Linked DNA regions of Homo sapiens: all the other regions are reported to be linked to region 3. Evidence: microRNA targets listed by miRTarBase, many of them from high-throughput screens and not tested one by one. Region 3 holds a microRNA gene; each other region holds the end of a gene's coding sequence.

Region 1 (4,548 bases), not on the chromosome of region 3:
TCTAACTCTCTTGTAATTTTTTGTCATGATAGGCTTGTGGTCAGCTACAGGAGTGTAAAGGATTGCATGCTGTAGTCAGATGCCGGCCTTAGGAGGAGGGCTTCCTTCAGCACAGTGAGGGATGAAAGCTATCCACAGCCCTTGGCTACTTCAGTTCCCCTTATCATGATTCCCCCCCTCCACCCCATAACCTCTGTCTGCCTTTTCCATGGAAGATTTGGCCACCTTTTGCTGAAACTAGGTTTAGTGGTAACAATTTTATACCTTTAATTAGCAGTAAAAAACCTTCTCTCTTGAATTCCTGTAGCTATCCGCTCAGCTTTTATGTGTGTGCCATTTTGGCCTCAGCCTCTGTGACCTGGAGAGATAGATGTACATGTTGGTTGCTGAAAAGCTCTGAGATGCAGAAAAAGCCTGACTTGCCCCACATCTCTGTTTATTTCTGGCAGGCATTCAACTCAGAAACAGACAGTTTCAAGCTGGCCTATGGAGGGCACCAGTATCACGCCAGCTGTGCCAACTTCTGGATCAACTGTGTCGAACCAAAGCCTCCTGGCCTCGTCCTGCCTGACCTGCTCTGAACAACTCCTCTGTGAAGCATTGACTTTTTTTTTTCTGTGACACCCCACGGGGTGACAGGGACCAATAAATAGAATGCGAGCACTGCACAGTTCGCTTCCCTGAATCGATATGAAGAACACCGCAAGGGACGGGGCCCCCGTCATCCCCACGGCCAGTCTGCAGGACTTCAGGTAAAATTGTCCCACCCAAACTGCACGTGGCACCAGAAGCTTGCTCACTTATCTCTACTTAAGATTTTCTGAAATACGGACCACGGCTTTCTTGATCTAAGGAAGAACTTGCTGCTGCAGTATTGAAACTGTGAAGAACTGACATTTGAAGAAAAATAGATTACCGTTGCGGGACTAGAATGGGCGACTGCTTGGAGCCAGTGCTTGTTTTTATCTAGGACACTTACTGTCCTGTGAAGTAGAATACATTTATCTGCATTTAGTTTGTTAATGTCTGAAATGAATAAAAAGAGGAAATTGCGATTAAACTGATGTTCTGCTTTTTATGGAGAAGATTCTGCCCATCTCCCCTGGACAGTAGCAGGCAGGTGAGGGCAGATTTTACCCACTTGGTTGTCACAACTGAACCAGTTCTCTACTCCTTCCCTTCACTTCTGTCCACTCTCAAGACTTTTTCCCAAAACATGCCTGGGCACTCTGCAGCCGTGAAGAATGCTCATTTTGACAGAGGCCCAAATCCTGTGTATTAGGATAATATCCTTCCCCCCGGGAGCCTTCGCTGCAAACCTGTTCTGCCGCATGCAAAGACTGTGACCATGGAGTTTTCTCAGACAAGATTTGGAAAGGCAGTGGAATGAAATCTCTTTGCAGTGGCCTCTCTCCAAATTTCCAAAGATGACTGCATAGGGACCAACACTGCCTGACTTTGCAGTATCTGTGAGAAAAACCTGAAAATTAATTCAGGGTGAAAATGTGGAGCTCTCGGCCTAGTGTAAAGTATCAAGATGTATATTTATGGGATAGATACATGACTTAGAAGAAGTAGAAGAAAATTGTCCAGAAACAGTACTGAATTTTAGATAGAAAAGGCTCATGCTTCCTGGAGTAGGGAATTGTCTTTGCCATTTAATGTGAATGCATAAAATTAGGGGAAAAACCCAAGTGGCTAAGAGCTGTGTTATTCCTGGGAAGAACTACCAATCTAGGGCACACGTCTCTCTGAATTGTTGATTATGCGCTTTATGAAGAGATTTTTCAATCTCGTGTGCTTTACTTTGTGTGGTTTAGACCCTCTGACCTAGACTTTTATTTTTAAACTGAAAAAGTTGGTCTTGTCTATATAATTGCTGCTTTTACATAATTTATTTTCCCCTCTCAGGACAAATTCTGTCTTGCTCCATCTTACAGCTTTTCCATGTTCTCCAAGAAAGGTGTGGAACATTTTCATTAAACAGCTGTTGCTGAGGCTTCTGCTTGACCTTCTGCGTGCCCGAATGCACAGAGAGGCACCGAGGAGAGAAAGGCTTTTCTCACTCGCTCCCGATGATACCGTCTCTGGCCATTCCTGACTGAGGCAGCTCACTCTGAATGGGCACCTTTGGAGCTTTTGCCCACCACAAGGCTAGTGGGGTGTTTCTAACAACACAAGTGGGACAGCTTTTGGCAGGCTTTTCCTGAGGCCTCGGCGCTTCCATCCTGGACAGCACCACTTCCACATGGAGCTGGAATGCAAGCAGGCTGCTAATTGGCCTTAAAAATTCTTTGTTTTTTTTTGAGATGGAGTTTCACTCTTGTTGCCCAGGCTTGAGTGCAATGGCACAATCTCAGCTCAGTGCAACCTCCGCCTCCCGGGTTCAAGCGATTCTCCTGCCTCAGCCTCGTGAGTAGCTGGGATTACAGGCGTGCACCACCACGCCCAGCTAATTTTGTATTTTTAGTAGAGGCAAGGTTTCTCCATGTTGGCCAGGCTTGAACTCCGGACCTCAGGCGATCCGCCCGCCTCAGCCTCCCAAAGTACCGGGATTACAGGCGTGAGCCACTGCGCCTGGCCTAAATTTCATAACAGAACCATGACAGCAGAATCTACCTTTGCAATAAGAATGTTTCCCAGGAGTTAGAGACCAGCCCTGGGCATGATGGTAAAGACCCCAGCTAATTATACAAAAAATAATTAGCCGGGTAGGTGGAGTGCATCTGTGGACATTCGTGGTCCCAGCTACTAGGTAAGCTGAGGCGGGAGATCACAAGTCCAGGAGTTTGAGGCTGCACGTGACAGCGTAGGTGATGACAGAGCGAGACACTGTCTCTTAAAAAAAAAAAAAAAAAAGTTTCCCAGTTTGAATTTGTATTGCTGAAGCATTTTTTTGAAATGCTATATAGATGCCTGTCATGTCACAGTGGCCCAGTATCAACATTTTAAAAAGCTCACTTGGTAGCTGGGCTGGTTTCTATTCCTGAGAAATTCCAGAATGCCTCAGATAAAATTCCTTAGTATAATCCCCATTTTCCTTACCAAGGATGGTAGGCTTAGTCACTCCTTGGGAGGTGCCACAGGAAAATTCAGCAGATGTCAACAGAAAAAAAGCCTTTGCTATGAAAAGTATTCACTACCTTTCATATCTCTTGAATACTTGAAATGTTTAATTAGATGCCACCAATAGGGATCCAAGGAGTGTGGGACACGGTTGCGCTGCTTTTCTTTATAAACGTTTATTAAAATGGCTCAACGCTGCATTCAGCTTCACCTCAGCTCTTCTTGTCAGCCAGGAGCCCCGTGTCCTTGGAAACTGTAGCCAAGGTTACTTATTTCCATACTGTGCATTGTGTCAGCCCGCTTCACCCCACTGCTTGAATGGCCATTAATAAGCACTTTTCTTTTTTTGGTGGGATGTTTTGCCTTTAAAATTTTTATGGCTTAGTGTGTAATTTAATTTTTGTCTGGACATGCTTGAGATAGAAGAGGTACTGGATATATGAGGATATTTTCCATGCTTTATTTTTCCTGTGGCTACTAGTTAGCATTCCATAGGGGTTGTGAATTTTTAATTATTTGAATATTTTGTGTACATATACATATTTGAAGGGTTTTGGGGGGGTCTTATTTGTTTAAAGGTGTCTTCTGTTTGCCTATTTCAAGTGTACTTCAGCTTTGCAAAGATTATAGGGCTGTATGTTACAGAAATAGGAAATGCTGGCCCTGTACTGGGGACCACTACAAAAATTCCCTTTAGCCGGGCGTGGTGGCTCACGCCTGTAATCCCCAGCACTTTGGGAGGCCGAGCCGGGTGGATCACCCGAGGTCAGGAGTTCAAGACCAGCCTGGCCAACATGGCGAGACCCTGTCTCTACTAAAAATACAAAAATTAGCTGGGCATGGTGGCAGGTGCCTGTAATCCGAGCTACTCGGGAGGCTGAGGCAGGAGAATTGCTTGAACCAGAGAGGCGGAGGTTGCAGTGAGCCGAGATCGCGCCACTGCACTCCAGCCTGGGCAACAAGAGCGAAACTCTGTCTCAAAAATAAAAAATTCCCTTTAACACCTTCAAGGTCAAATGCCTGCCTTTGTGAACAGTTAATAAACTGACATTTTCAGACATTTGCCATTCAGAAGGGAGCATTGTAGCCTGCTGTAGACCATTCCAGCAAATGTCAGAATGCAGGGCAAGATGTGTGTCGACTATGTTTTTTATGTTTAAGTTACTTACTTATTTCTTCAGGTAAGTGTGTACCAAATAACAATACTGAAAAGCCCTCCCCTTGCCAGGCCGAGGAAATAAAGCTTAAGTGAAACAGCTCTTGGGGGAAAAATGCCACTTTACAAATACTTTTCTAACAAAATAGCATTATAATGAAGTTTTTACTTAATTCCATTATTTATATGTTGACGTGAATGTAAGTGGTTAAAAAGTATTCATGTGGGACATCTCATTACTTTGTAGCTGTGGCTTTATTAACCAGTGAATGCTGTGGCCCTTAGCGAAATGCGTTGTCTTCTGCGTGATGTGGAATTCGCGCCTG
Region 2 (4,530 bases), not on the chromosome of region 3:
TGAACAAAAAGATAATAACTTAAAACAATAGCCAAAAAAATTAGTCACTGGATGGTTTGGGTCTCTATAAAAACTAAAAAGAGCATCTTATAACATACGTCCCTAAGTTGTTTTTCAAAAAACCAGACCCGCCACCAAGTGGATCCACTGACACATAAACCTCTAGTAAGGGGGAAATGAAGATTAAATGCTGCCACTCCTTGCTCTGAATTTCTTCCTGAAGGGTCTAAAAGAAGTCATACCCAAGAGCCAGGGCCAACATTCTTTTCTGATGACCCCAAAATTTTAAATAAAGCTTCTCTTCCTTAACCAATTACAAATCAAAAAAATCTTTAAATCTGTTACCTATAAGCCCCCACTTCAAGATATCCCACCCTTTTAGGCCAAACCAATGTATTATAGAACCTCCATGTATTAATTTACAATTTTGCCTATAACTCTTGCTTAAAATGTACCCCTGCATTTAAAAACCCTTCCTTATGAGCCATTGAAGAGGTCAGGTCCTAAGCATAAACTGCCCAATTCTCCTTGCTTCAAGGTGCCTACAAATAAATGCCCCCCTTTCTCCTGCTGAAAACCTTGGTATGGATGTTTGGCCTTACCATGCTGGGCAAGCAGACCCCAGTTCAGTTTAATAACATTGTTGAGATTTTTCATTAATTCATTAGTATTGGTATTTATTATAACTTCTAGTTTCCCTCCATGCAAATTTGACCATGCCTTATATTGTCACCTAAGTCGTTAATGAACATGGTGGCATGTCATTTGCAGTTTCTCTCCAGTCTACATCAGTCTGTCAACATGCATTCTTTGAGTTCGGTCATTCTACCGGCTGAAGAACCAGCCACACTTTCCCATTCAATCCATAAGCATATCACAGCAGTCTTCCTCACAGACTCTGCTAAAACCCAGATACATAAAATGTAAGATAGTCCTCAGAACCACCAGTCTAGTACCAAGCAAAAAGAGTGTATCTCCTAAAAGATTGAAGTGGAAGTTATTATAGAATCAAGGATATCCTGATCAAAGAATCAAAGAATCTATCTGGATTCTAGAATGAATCCAAGGGTGAGAAGGCAGCTGGCCTTTTTGCTTGGAAAAAAAGAGTAAGTATCCTAAGGAACATCACTTCAAAGAACACACAGATGGCTGGAATCATGCCAGCACTAACATGCCCAAGTGGTTTCCAGAATCCACCTTTTGCCCACTTAAAAAATTCAGTTCATTTGGTCATTTTCTTCTGAGAATGCCTCAAAATTCTAATTTGCAGTTTCATAGCATAGCCATTAGTATAGGGACTATGGGCCTGGAGATGCAGTTCATTTCTAGTCCCCCCTTACTCATATCCTCACCCAATATCTTGGCCATTAACTCCTTTCCTACCCTGTTCAGTATTATGTTGGAGTATATATTCTTTCAATATGAACTATAGTATTATAATACTATTAGCTTTACAACACCACAGCAGGAACATTCCTCCTGTTCTTGCTCTGAATGATTTTGAAAAGCCTGTTTATTGTGGATTAGACTTCGTGACACTACTTGTAATTCAGCAACAAATTTTTATATTCATTTCTGTTTGCTTTATACTTTCTTCCTATGAAAATGGCTAGAAAGCAGTAATGCTAAATTAAAAGAAAGATGGAATGGTGGTCGATCAGGTCAAAATTTTTTGTATGTGCATTTAACAGAAAAACCCAAGCTGGTGTAAATATTAAAGTGGAAACTATAACAGAATCAAGGCTATCTCCTAGAACGAATCCAAGGGTAAGAAGGCAGCTGGCCTGAGGATAGAACTGAAAACTGGAAATCTCTGGGACTTCAGAGAGAACTCTCCTTCGCTCATCTTTACTTCTCTTAATGCAGACACCTCACTTTTTTTTTTTTTTTCAACAGAACGGGTTAACTGCTAGTTGGCCTCATTGTTCTGAAGTTCTGGCCCTACATGAACTATTTCAAGTCTGAAATTCCCAGGGAAGGCGGGAGGAAACTCCTGATTGGCCCAGGTTGGTTCAGGAGCAGACTCCCTCCTCGATCAACTGTGATCATGCAGGAGCAGCAGAGTCTCAGTGCATAAAACAGGTACCAGGACCCCACTGCTAAGGTGAGGATGGGAGGTAAGAGAATAGGAGCTTTTAAAAAGAGACCCCAAAAGATGTTTTTATACAGGGGCTTTGATGGGCTGAAGGCCTGGAAGACAGAAACACTGCCAATGTCTTTTTTCTTTCTAAAATAAACTTATGCTTGGCTGGGTGCAGTGGCTCACACCTGTAATCCCAGCACTTTGGGAGGCCGAGGCGGGCGAATTACGAGGTCAAGAGATCGAGACCATCTTGGCCAACATGGTGAAACCCTGTCTCTACTAAAAATACAAAAATTAGCTGGAGGTGGTGGCAGGCACCTGTAGTCCCAGCTACTCGGGAGGCTGAGGCAGGAGAATCGCTTGAACCTGGGAGGTGGAGGTAGCAGTGAGCAGAGATCATGCCACTGGACTCCAGCCTGGAGACAGAGTGAGACTCCGTCTCAAAAGAAAAAAAAAAAACAAACCTTATGCTTAATGTTTGTTGTTACTCTGAACTACAGCAACTGTGTTCTTCTGAAGGAAAATCTCTGAGCAAGGAGCAGCTTACTAGTGATCTTGAACATGCTATTTAATCTCTAGATACAAAGTGGTGATGACAATATCAATAATAACTACCTTGCAGTTCCCTGAGAGAATCAGAGATAACATATCCAAAGTGTTTAGCACCATACTTAGCATACAGTAGCAGAGTAAAAACTCAGCAAATGGAAGCTATGATTTTAAAAGCTAAACAAAACTATACAATATCAGCTGGTTTTTTTTTCCCTTAGGGAGACTTATTTCCTCCACGGCTATTTAGTAGACACTGGAGCCACAGTCCAGTGAGCTAATTTAAGAGAGAAACTCGGAGCACAGAATGCTCAGTTCCACAGAATTCCAACACACAAGTCTAACTTATTACTGTATCTCAGTTACCTCTACCATTACCTATAAATGGCATAAAGTAAAAATTAAGCATGTGAAACAGTTAACCTCAATTATAAAAATAAAATGCATTTAAATTATACACATGGAGTATACAATATATTTACTTATTGCATACAAATTCTGCTCAACTAGAAAGTTTTGTGTACAGTAGAAACAGTGGTAAGAATTTCTAATAAGTCCCAATTTTATTTCTTTGATCCTAAGCCTCTACTTGTTTCCCTCCCACAATTGGGCTGGGTGTTACTAACCCATGTGCACATTAATTACAGCATTTATTTTTCCCTAAAAAGTTGTTATTAAGCTAACAGTATATCATCTAAAAAGTACTGTTAACTTAAATTCAAGAACATATAATAAATAGTGGAGATGAGTAAACAAACAAAAAAAAAGTTTTTTACTTTATCAATCAGCAGTATGTCCTTTATTCCATACGTACTACTTGCCCAGTCTTATATTACTTGTGATCTTGAAATGGAAACCATGTCCTGTTATTGAACAAGCTCTTCTCTATTTTTTCATCAGAAAGCCACAAATATAGATAAAGCATTTTTTTATTTGCCTTGGAGCAATATATTTTGAATTAAGCCCAGCCTCCCATGTTTCAGTTTAGGTAGCTAAGATACATGCTGGTGAAAAGTAAAAAACTAAATTATTTGTCTTTCTGCCTACCACATAACTATTTTAAATAATTTTCTTAGGTGCTTAGTTATCATGGTCATGACATCATAAAGAGTCCCACTTTGTCTTTCCTTTAATAATAAGCAACCTCTGTTTATACGTATTTGAAAAACTGCCTCATGTGATATTGACAGAGCTATAGTATTAAATACAAAGATGAATAAATGGTGTGAGTGAAAAATAGTGTATTCGACTCCAAGCTAGCTCAAAGGCTTACACGTCCATTTCAACATTGGGAACAATTCACTATAGAATGTGAAAGGAAAATGACAGACCAATATACAAATTTTTGTAGGAATAATTTTGCATATATACCACAAGATCATTATCACATATTAAAAATAAATACACTGTTTGTTAGGTAATTCTGAAATTGTCATTTCTATTTTGGAGTTACAAATAATAAGCCCTGAGACAGAAGACACTGGTCCTCACACAGCAGCTGCCATTGCTCTGTTCTCAGTTGCGGTGCTTTATATAGAACAATAGGTATACAAAAGCGTTTGAGCCATTCCGGTATTCCCACTGCTCTGATAGATGAGAGACAAGTTGTAGGCAATATCTCTTCGTAAGTCTAACTGGTCAAGTTCTATACCCTAGGGAGAAAAAGATACCTTTATGTTTAATATTTCCAACTGTCAACCGGGACAATTTTATGGCAAATTAATAGTTTTATAAGTGTAAGTAAGTTTTCAAAAGGTATTAAAGCTCATGTACTAAAAAAAAATTATAAAACTATGCATATACCTTGGATCAATGCTGATTCAGTTAACAGCATCATCAAATATTTTAACAGTAATTTAAAGTCTCACCCACAAGCTACGGCAGAATAAACGCCAGAT
Region 3 (4,548 bases):
TGCCAGCTTTTTTAAACAACCGGCTCCCTCTAACTGAGCAGGAACTCGTTAAGTGAGGACATCACCAAGCCATTCACAAGGGATCCGCCCCATCACTCAACCACCCCCACCAGGCCCCACCCCCAATACTGGGGATCACACTTCAACATGAGATTGGAGGGGACAAACATCCAAACCATATCAAAGGTATACTCTAGGATCCTAGTTCAAGTAGCACCTGCTTTTGTTGCTTTGCCTTCTAAACTGAACTGACACATATTAGCACAGTTCTGTCTCAGCCATAGAAACCCAGTTTCTCTGGACCATTTTTCCTTATGTAAGAAAATGACCTGTTTAACCATGGAGGGAACTCCTCAGCCAGCTAAGAGAGGAGAGTTCAGAGATAGCTGGTGCAGCTTCTCATCAACAACAGAATTGACTCCCTCGCTGCTCCTTTCCCATCATCTAAGCCAGTCATCGATTTTCCCCAGGAGTGTTTCTAGGTATCCGTCACCAAAACAAAACCCCCACCAAGTCTATGGAATTTCTATAAAGTATAACCATTCATGATATGCTAATAGTGAACCATTTGTTAGTATTATACCACATGCAATTCAGGTCAGTGAAATTCAACTTAGAAACTGGAAGAAGAAAAATCACCTTTGCATTATTGCTTTGCATTTGTTTTCTTAGTTCTTGTCCATGGCCCCAACGGTCACCAATACATTTCCTCTCAGCAGTCAGCATCATGGTGCTCTTCCCCAATCATTATAACCGATTTCAGATGGTGCTAGAAAATTATATTGACTCTGAACACCAAAAGAAATCAGTCATCCTCTAAGGGGTCACAGAAGGTCGTGAGGGTTGGGAGGGCCCAAATCTTACTAAATCCAGCATACATTGGGCTCTTTAACCCAGGCACAATGGAATGAGTCTGTACTATCTATTAAGTGCTATAGGTTTATTCCACAAAGAAGTATAAAATTCCAACAATGCGATATCCTGTACAATTACATTCATCCCTTGGTATCCTTGAGGGATTGGTTCCAGAAAGCCCCTTGGATACCAAAATCCACAGATGCTCAAGTCTCTGATAGAAAATGGTGTAGTATTTGCATACAACCTACACACATCCTCCCGTATACTTTAAATCGTCTCTAGATTACTTAGAATACTTAATGCAATGCAAATGTATGCAAATAATTGTTATGCAGTATTGTTAGAGAATAATGACAAGAAGAAAGTCTGTTCATGTTCAATACAGACACAACTTATTTTTGGAAAACTTTCGATCACAGTTGGATCCGCCAGTGCAGAGACCTGACTGCCATTTGTGATATATGCCACCACTGTTGGCAGGGGTGAGGAAGGGGTCAGCTACATGTGAGGCAGGTTCTCACAGCCATCCTGCTGTTGCTTTCAAATACTTCAGAGCTGTCCCATTCACTTCTTTTGCTGTTGGTAGTGCAGCGCAGCTGGTCTCCCCCAAGAACACTGATTTCAAATGGTGCTAGACAATCACTATTTAAATCTAAACCACCATATGAAACCAGCTTCCTGAAGAAGCTTTATGATCTATTTTTTTCTTCATAATGCTCTCTTACAATAAACCCAAGACAACCTAGAAAGGAAAAGTTGAAACCTAGCTGTGAGTTACTCAGTGGTCTAAACAGAGCTTTGGCAAATTTCATATATTCATAAACTGATGTCACTGAATTTGTTATTGATGGGAGAGCATGCCTGGGACTCCCTTATTCTTAAGTTAAGTTGCCCAGACAAAGGTTCAGCTTCATCATTTAGAGGCAAGGGCACATGTCAGCCCCGTCACTCTTGGGTGGGAAGACAAGGAAAATCCTTTGCTTGGGTAAAGGCAGGAGAAGTCAGAGGCATCCTGTGATCAAGTACCCAGGCAGGCGGAGGACGACTAGCAGTGGTGCTGGAGAACCGTCCGTCGGACATGCAAATAGGACAAAGCAAGCAAGTGCTCCATAGAAGTTGAAGAAAAACGCTTTCCTAAACCTATTATTTTCACTTGGAGATAACTTGGATCCAAAGGATTACTGAGATTTTGGGGTCTAGGGAAGAAAATAGACTAGCTCAGAGGCCAAGTAAGTCACATAATGGCACTAATGAGATGCTAATGTCGCTTCCGGAATGAATTCCTTAGACTGCATCTATGAGTTAGGGGTTTTTGTGAGCTTTACTTAAGACTCTCCTTCCCTCTACTCCAAAGGTAAGGCTTTGTACTCTGAGTTCTCCTTGGCAAATTATTTTTTGCAGCAGTTCTTTTTCGCCGTCATGGTATAGTTCTTGGTATCATCTTATTAGGTGGCCTGTTGTCGTCCCTTTTTGTGTTCTAGGCATCCAAAAAGATACTTCATGTACCCAGGCCACCTAATTAAAGGGGTGTGCACTGTTTTTATAAACTGTTATAAAAAATTTTATACATTAAATTGGAATGACAATACAATGAATTCCTAAATCCATACTATCTAAATTCAATAACTATTCCTTTTTATCATGTTTTGCTTTAATTATATGTAATATAGATACATATTTTTTGCTGCATTGTTTGAAAGTAAATTGATAACCACCCATACATACACTGCTCCTAACTACTTTGAGGTCGTTCTATAAAATGAAGACACTCTTCTACATAACCACAAAATCTTACCATACCTAAGAAAACAAACAATTCCTTGGTACCCACAAATATCCAGCCTACATCCAACTTCTCCCACTTTCTCCAAACAAAAGGTTTTTTATAGGTTTTTCAAACCCAGATCGCATCAAGGTTGATTCACTAAGACTCTTTGGTCTCTTTTAGCCTCAAAACACTACCCAACCTTTTCTTTGGCTTGTTTTATCATGACATACCACCTTGTGAAAACCAGGCTCCAATCCTGGCTGTACCATTCACTTAGTCTGTTCCCTTGGCTTGTATTTAAGAACTGAACTTTAGTTTCTCCGTCTGACTTTCCTCATATATCATCCTCATTTTACAATCTCACTATGTGTATTAGAAGAACATCCAATTACCACGTGCCTGTGGTTGATGATTCCAAGTGGGTTCAGTGCTAATCAGTCAGGAGGTGCACTGCAGGCTGTTTACCTTGGGTCTGATTAGCATAACATTCTTGTTCCTCATGGGCTTGGCCAGTTATCTTTTCATAAGGAGATCCCAGCACAAACTCATCCTTTATCATCATGGAGAAGCATCCACAGCACATACCTATTGCTGCTAGGCTGGTTTTTAAAAAAAATCTCTGTGAATAAGGGAATAGAACACCAGGGCTATGGAGATGCGTGGCAATCATTTCATCAAAGATGTAAACAGCTTGTTGACTGCAGTGAAAGGCACATACTTTGTGAAGTGACAGGCAGTGACACATTTCAAGTGGATAGTAAATTTAAGCACCAAAACTGGGAAAAGTGCCAGGACAGAAGAATCACTGCAACTCTCAAATAATGGTTTCACTAATTCTGTGATTCCTTTAGGGACCCCCTGCATCCTTCTGTATATGCTACTCTAATTCGCAGTATCAGTGACTGAAGTACAAAAGAAGCAGCCAGATTATTCTCATCAGTTACAAAACTCTAAAGTCTGCTTATTTTTGATAAATAACTAGTCACAGTGTTTGCCTACTGCCTAGAAGTTTTTTCAAATGATTGACACTTCAGTTATGGGGAAAATTTTTCCTGAAGAATGAATTTCTTTTACTTATGTCTGATAAGATCATATATATCTCATACACCAAATACATCACACACACTATATATTCAACCATGCCCTTAGCAGGGCCAAACAAATATGCTAAGTTTTTTACATTGTCTTTATGTATGCTTCTCAAAAATTCAGCAGAAGGCTAAGCGTGGTGGCTCATACCTGTAATCCCAGCATTTTGGGAGGCTGAGGCAGGCAGATCACTTGAGGTCAGAAGTTTGAGACCAACCTGGCCAACATGGTGAAACCCCATATCTACTAAAAAAATACAAAAAAAAAAAACCAAACTAGCCAGGCGTGGTGGCACATGCCTGTAGTGAGGCTGAGGCCGAGGCAGGAGAGTTGCTTGAGCCCAGTAGGCGGAGGTTGCACTGAGCTGAGATCGTGCCATTGCACTCCAGCCTGGGTGACAGAGCAAGCCTCTGTTTCAAAAAAATTAGCCGGGTATGGGATGCCTGCAATCCCAGCTACTCAGGAGGCTGAGGCAGGAGAATCACTTGAACCTGGGAGGCAGAGGTTGCAGTGAGCCAAGATCATGCCACTGCACTCCAGCCTGGGCAATACAGCCAGACTCCATCTCAAAAAAAAAAAAAAAAAAAAAAAAAAAAGGCCAGGCACGGTGGCTCACGCCTGTAATCCCAGCACTTTGGGAGGCCAAGGCAGGTGTATCACGAGGTCAGGAGTTCAAGACTAGCCTGGCCAAGAAGGTGAAACCCTCTCTCTACTAATTAATAATACAAAAATTAGCTGGGCGGGAGGCTGAGGCAGGAGAATTGCCTGAACCCGGGTGGCAGAGGTTGCAGTGAGCCAAGATCGCGCCACTGGATTCCAGCCTGGGCAAAAGA
Region 4 (4,548 bases), not on the chromosome of region 3:
AGGAGCCCCTCTGCCTGGCGGCCACCCCATCTGGGAGGTGTACCCAACAGCTCATTGAGAACGGGCCATGATGACGATGGTGGTTTTGTGGAATAGAAAAGGGGGAAATGCGGGGAAAAGATAGAGAAATCAGATTGTTGCTGTGTCTGTGTAGAAAGAAGTAGACATAGGAGACTCCATTTTGTTCCGTACTAAGAAAAATTCTTCTGCCTTGGGATGCTGTTGATCTATGACCTTACCCCCAACCCTGTGCTCTCTGAAACATGTGCTGTGTCCACTCAGGGTTAAATGGATTAAGGGCGGTGCAAGATGTGCTTTGTTAAACAGATGCTCGAAGGCAGCATGCTCGTTAAGAGTCATCACCACTCCCTAATCTCAAGTACCCAGGGACACAAACACTGCGGAAGGCCGCAGGGTCCTCTGCCTAGGAAAACCAGAGACCTTTGTTCACTTGTTTATCTGCTGACCTTCCCTCCACTATTGTCCTATAACCCTGCCAAATCCCCCTCTGCGAGAAACACCCAAGAATGATCAATTAAAAATAAATAAATAAATAAATAAAAGAAGACATACATGTGGACAACAAACATATGAATAAAAGCTCAACATCACTCATCATTAGAGAAATGCAAATCAAAACCACAATGAGATACCATCTCACACAAGTCAGAATGGCTGTTATTAAAAAGTCAAAAAATAACAGACGCTGGAAAGGTTGTAGAGTAAAAGGAACGCTTATACACTGTTGGCGGGAGTGTAAATTTGTTCAACCAAAGTGGAAGACAGTGTGGTGTTTCCTCAAAGACCTAAAGACAGAACTACCATTCGACCCAGCAATCCCATTACTGGTTATATACCCAAAGGAATATAAGTTGTTCTATTATAATGATATGGTGTGGCTTTTTGTCCCCACCCAAATTTCATCTTTTTTTTTTTTGGGACAGAATCTCCCTCTGTTGCCCAGGCTGGAGTACAGTGGTGCGATCTTGGCCTACTTCAACCTCTGCCTCCCGGGTTCAGCGATTCTCGTGCCTCAGTCTCCTGGGTAGCTGGGATTACAGGCGCTCACCATCATGCCTTGCTAAGTTTTGTATTTTTAGTAGAGACGGGGTTTCACCATGTTGGCCAGGATGGTCGTGATCTCCTGACCTCGTGATCCGCCTGCCTCAGCCTCCCAAAGTGCTGGGATTACAGGCGTGAGCCACCACGCCCGGCCCTTTAATCATTTTTATGAACTGAAAACCAGTGTCACTTGTCAAAAATAAATATTGAACCCAAATATAAATATAATGAAAACAAAACGATGTTGTTAAAGCTTAACTACAGACATTTCCCAACTAAAGTATGAACCTGGATCCCGGGTCTTTCTTTCCAAAGACATTAAAGACAGACTAGTGCCAAGACCGTGTCCTTGAAGTCCAATTGATTGCTGTGCTGTGGCCATGTACAGCCACCCTACTTTGGCCAGTGGTACACTTGTGTATCTCAAGCTTTGGGAAACATTGAGATAAGCAAATCGTAAACCCTGAACAAATGCCCATGGGCCTTGGGAAGAACATATTTTAGGCATCATTTCTCTCTCTCTTTTTAAAAAAATTTTTTTTTTTTTTGAGACAGAGTCTCATTCTGTCGCCCAGGCTGGAGTGCAGTGGTGCGATCTCGGCTCACTGCAACCTCCGCCTCCTGGGTTCACGTGATTCTCCTGCCTCAGCCTCCTGAGTAGCTGGGATTATAGGCTCCTGCCACTATGTCTGGCTAATTTTTTGTATTTGTAGTACAGATGAGGTTTCACTATGTTGGCCAGACTGGTCTCGAACTCCTGACCTTGTGATCCACCCGCCTCAGCCTCCTAAAGAGCTGGGATTATAGGTGTGAGCCACTGCGCCCAGCCTTTGGGCATCATTTCTGATCAAAACTCTTGAAGTGCCTAACTGCAAGTTAGCAGGCCTGGAACTGAGATGGGAAAACTGTGAGAAAGTTCTCTGCTGTTTTCACTCATGTAGCAACAAAGACAAGCTGTTGGGTGATCAAGTCTTGATTAAATCATTCATTCATTCAACATTTATTGAGCGCCTACTGTGTGCTAGGCACCGTGCTAGGCGCAGAAATACAGAGATGCATAAGATACAGTCCATGCCCTTAAGGATTCACAGTCTAGAAGGGGAGACAAACATGTAAACAAGTAAAATACAGTGTGATAAGTGCCACAAGAGAAGCATTGACAAAGTGCAGAGGTAGCCTGGAGGGGAGGGGCACAGGGGTTGCCTTCCTGGAGGAGGGGGCCTTTGAGGGGATCGTGAGAGATGAACTTGCCAGGCAGACAAGGCAGGAGGAGCAGGGGAAGGCATTCCAGTCGGAAGAAACAGCATGAGCGAAGGCACAGAGGCATGAAACTGCATGTCTTGCTTGGTGAGTGGGGAACTCTAACTAGTCTGGTGGTATTGCTAAAGTGTACTAGAGGCTGTGGCTAGAGAAGGGGGCAGAGGCCAGATCATGAGGGGAAACTGAGGGCAGGGGCATCTTGGAGGGTCACCAGAGGTGAGCAGAGCCCGAGGGCAGGCTTTGACACAGGAAAAGAGGGCTCCTGGCTGACTCAAGGTACACCTGCCTGAGGACCACAGGGTTCCTCGCTGTGGCTCCAAAGGGATCTCGACCCAAGAGTAGAGGAGCAGCAGAGCTGGAGGTGAAGCAGAGGGGTCGGGCCAGGTCTGGGACCCAGAGCTGCCATGCACTCCCGCGCTCTCACAGACTTCTGATTTCCAACCTGCACGTCAGAGCCCCCTCCTGCCAGCCGGATGGGGGCCTGGATCCAGTGGGAAATCACATGGGAATATGGCTGGCAAACTGCAAAGGGCCAGATGAGTGTCAGGTTACAGAATAAATCTTTACTAACTCAAAGAAGAAAAGGGCTGCGGATAAAACAGGAAAGGTTAGATGGAGGAAGGCGGGCAGACGGGCCTAAGAACAAGGGCCAAAATGAGAATACAGCATCGGCCAAAGAGGACCGTGGCTGTCTCTCCCCTGGCAAGGAGGGGCCCTTTTGGCCCAGGGCAGAGGCAGAGGCCAGTGGGTACAACCAGGCCAGATGTGCAAGGAGAGCATGTGACCTGCAAGACTGTGGGGCTCCACACTCCAGACTCCAGTGTCTCCTTAGCCCAATGAGGAGGTTTCCTTGGCAATCAGGACCCTCCTTCTTCCAGGCTGTAGGGAGGCCACTGAGGCAGAGAGTGGCCAGCCAGCATTCCAGCCCTTCAGTGTTCTTAGGAATGGCTCTGTCTGAAAAATGGCTTTGCAGGGATGGGTGGGGCAGGGAGGCTGTGGGAAGAGGGCAGAGTCTCAGGACACCAGAGTCCAGCTGCCCATCTGAGTGGTGCTTTTGTAAGGCATCACACTTGAGGCCACTGTGAGGGGCTGAGCTTCTTTCCCAACCATGGATGGGGGAAGGGCAAGATGGACCCTGGGTTCCAGGGCTACAGTGAGATGAGGCCTCCTGACGGAGAAGCTAACAGCAGCCCCCATGTCCTTGCTGCCGTCCCAGGAGTAGGGAAGGAGGAGGGGACCCTCCCAGTTGGTAGGGTCTGGAGATGTCCCGAGACCCCTCCTTTCCTCTTGCCGTTGATGAGGCAGCCTCGCGCTGCGGGGTTCCCAGCCTCCAACAGGCCCCCTTCTTTTGGCCTCACAGTCTCATCGCCTGATCCCTCCCCTCCCCTGAGCAGTGTGGGGGGATGATGCCCGCTTGGGTGCCGATGGAGGTGGTGGTGTTAGCGATGAGAAGGATGATGAGGTGTTGGTGGTGGCGGCCTCCCCATGCGGGGAGTGGGCTGGGCTGGGGGCGCTGGGGGCATCACTTGCTCTTGTGCATATCCTTCAGCCGGCGGAGCTCTTCCAGGAGCTGGGCCCGGGAGTAGTCATCATCCCCAGTGGGGCCCGGCCCCGGCCCCAGAGCCTCCTGTAGCGCCAGGCAGTGGGTTCTCAGGAACGGGTTGTAGGAGCGCTCCTCTCCCAGGGTAGATGGGCACTGTGGGTGAGAGGAACCAGGTTTGGTGGAGAGAAGCTGGGAAATGGACCCAAGACAGAGAAGCCTGACCCGACCCCTGCCCCATCCTGGAGTTCAGGAGTTCTGACTTGAGGGCCCATGGGCCAAAGAGGTCAGAGTTTTGGGGAGGTGCTCGCAGGCCTGGGGTCAGCATGGATGGGTTCCCGTTGGGGCTGAGTGCCTGCCCACACAGCTCCTCCTGGACCCCGAGTCCCTCACCGTGCCCTTGCGCTCCAGCCGCTGCCGCTGCACCCACTGCATCTTCCTCTCCCGGGCCAGGTTCTCGGGCTCCACCACACCTGCAAAGCCCAGGTTCTCCTCTGCATACTCATGACCTACCGACAGCCATGAGGGTGAGACACAGAGCAGAGAGAGATTGGTGGTACAGTCAGAACAGTCTTCCCTGCCCCAGGTCCAGGCTGATGGGCACCTGACAACTAGGGATGAGGTCAGCACTTCCAGGAAAACCCCAACTGCCAGGAGCTGCTTCTCTAACTGTGGGCACAAGTCAG

Evidence for each region. Region 3 holds the annotated microRNA hsa-miR-29b-1-5p (GCUGGUUUCAUAUGGUGGUUUAGA, at 1,510-1,533, opposite strand). A microRNA usually pairs through its seed, bases 2 to 8, with sites in the 3' UTR of a target mRNA and lowers its output. Matches are read on the target gene's strand: a 7mer-m8 pairs with bases 2 to 8, a 7mer-A1 pairs with bases 2 to 7 and ends in A, and an 8mer does both.
Region 1: miRTarBase lists SYNRG as a target of hsa-miR-29b-1-5p. Seed matches in the 3' UTR shown: 7mer-A1 at 3,965-3,971.
Region 2: the mRNA of GTF3C3 is a reported target of hsa-miR-29b-1-5p. Seed matches in the 3' UTR shown: 7mer-m8 at 2,834-2,840.
Region 4: the mRNA of PNKD is a reported target of hsa-miR-29b-1-5p. The part of its 3' UTR that is shown has no 7-base or 8-base seed match.

The regions. Positions count from the first base shown.
Region 1 is chr17:37,514,973-37,519,520 of GRCh38, reverse strand. SYNRG (synergin gamma) reads left to right here. Exons shown (of 22, transcript NM_007247.6): 22 at 450-4,548. The coding sequence ends at 581. Among named protein-coding and RNA genes, the nearest start is that of DUSP14, 27 kb to the right of the region's middle.
Region 2 is chr2:196,760,402-196,764,931 of GRCh38, forward strand. It overlaps GTF3C3 (general transcription factor IIIC subunit 3), which reads right to left. Exons shown (of 18, transcript NM_012086.5): 18 at 2,634-4,284. The coding sequence ends at 4,162. Among named protein-coding and RNA genes, the nearest start is that of GTF3C3, 37 kb to the right of the region's middle.
Region 3 is chr7:130,875,998-130,880,545 of GRCh38, forward strand. It overlaps MIR29B1 (microRNA 29b-1), which reads right to left and starts at 1,542; the gene lies at 1,462-1,542. It overlaps MIR29A (microRNA 29a), which reads right to left and starts at 813; the gene lies at 750-813. It also overlaps a transcript of LINC-PINT not described here.
Region 4 is chr2:218,344,278-218,348,825 of GRCh38, reverse strand. PNKD (PNKD metallo-beta-lactamase domain containing) reads right to left here. Exons shown (of 10, transcript NM_015488.5): 9 at 4,256-4,371; 10 at 2,033-4,018. The coding sequence ends at 3,845. The region is part of intron 2 of CATIP-AS2 (CATIP antisense RNA 2); the gene reads left to right. Among named protein-coding and RNA genes, the nearest start is that of MIR6810, 4.6 kb to the right of the region's middle.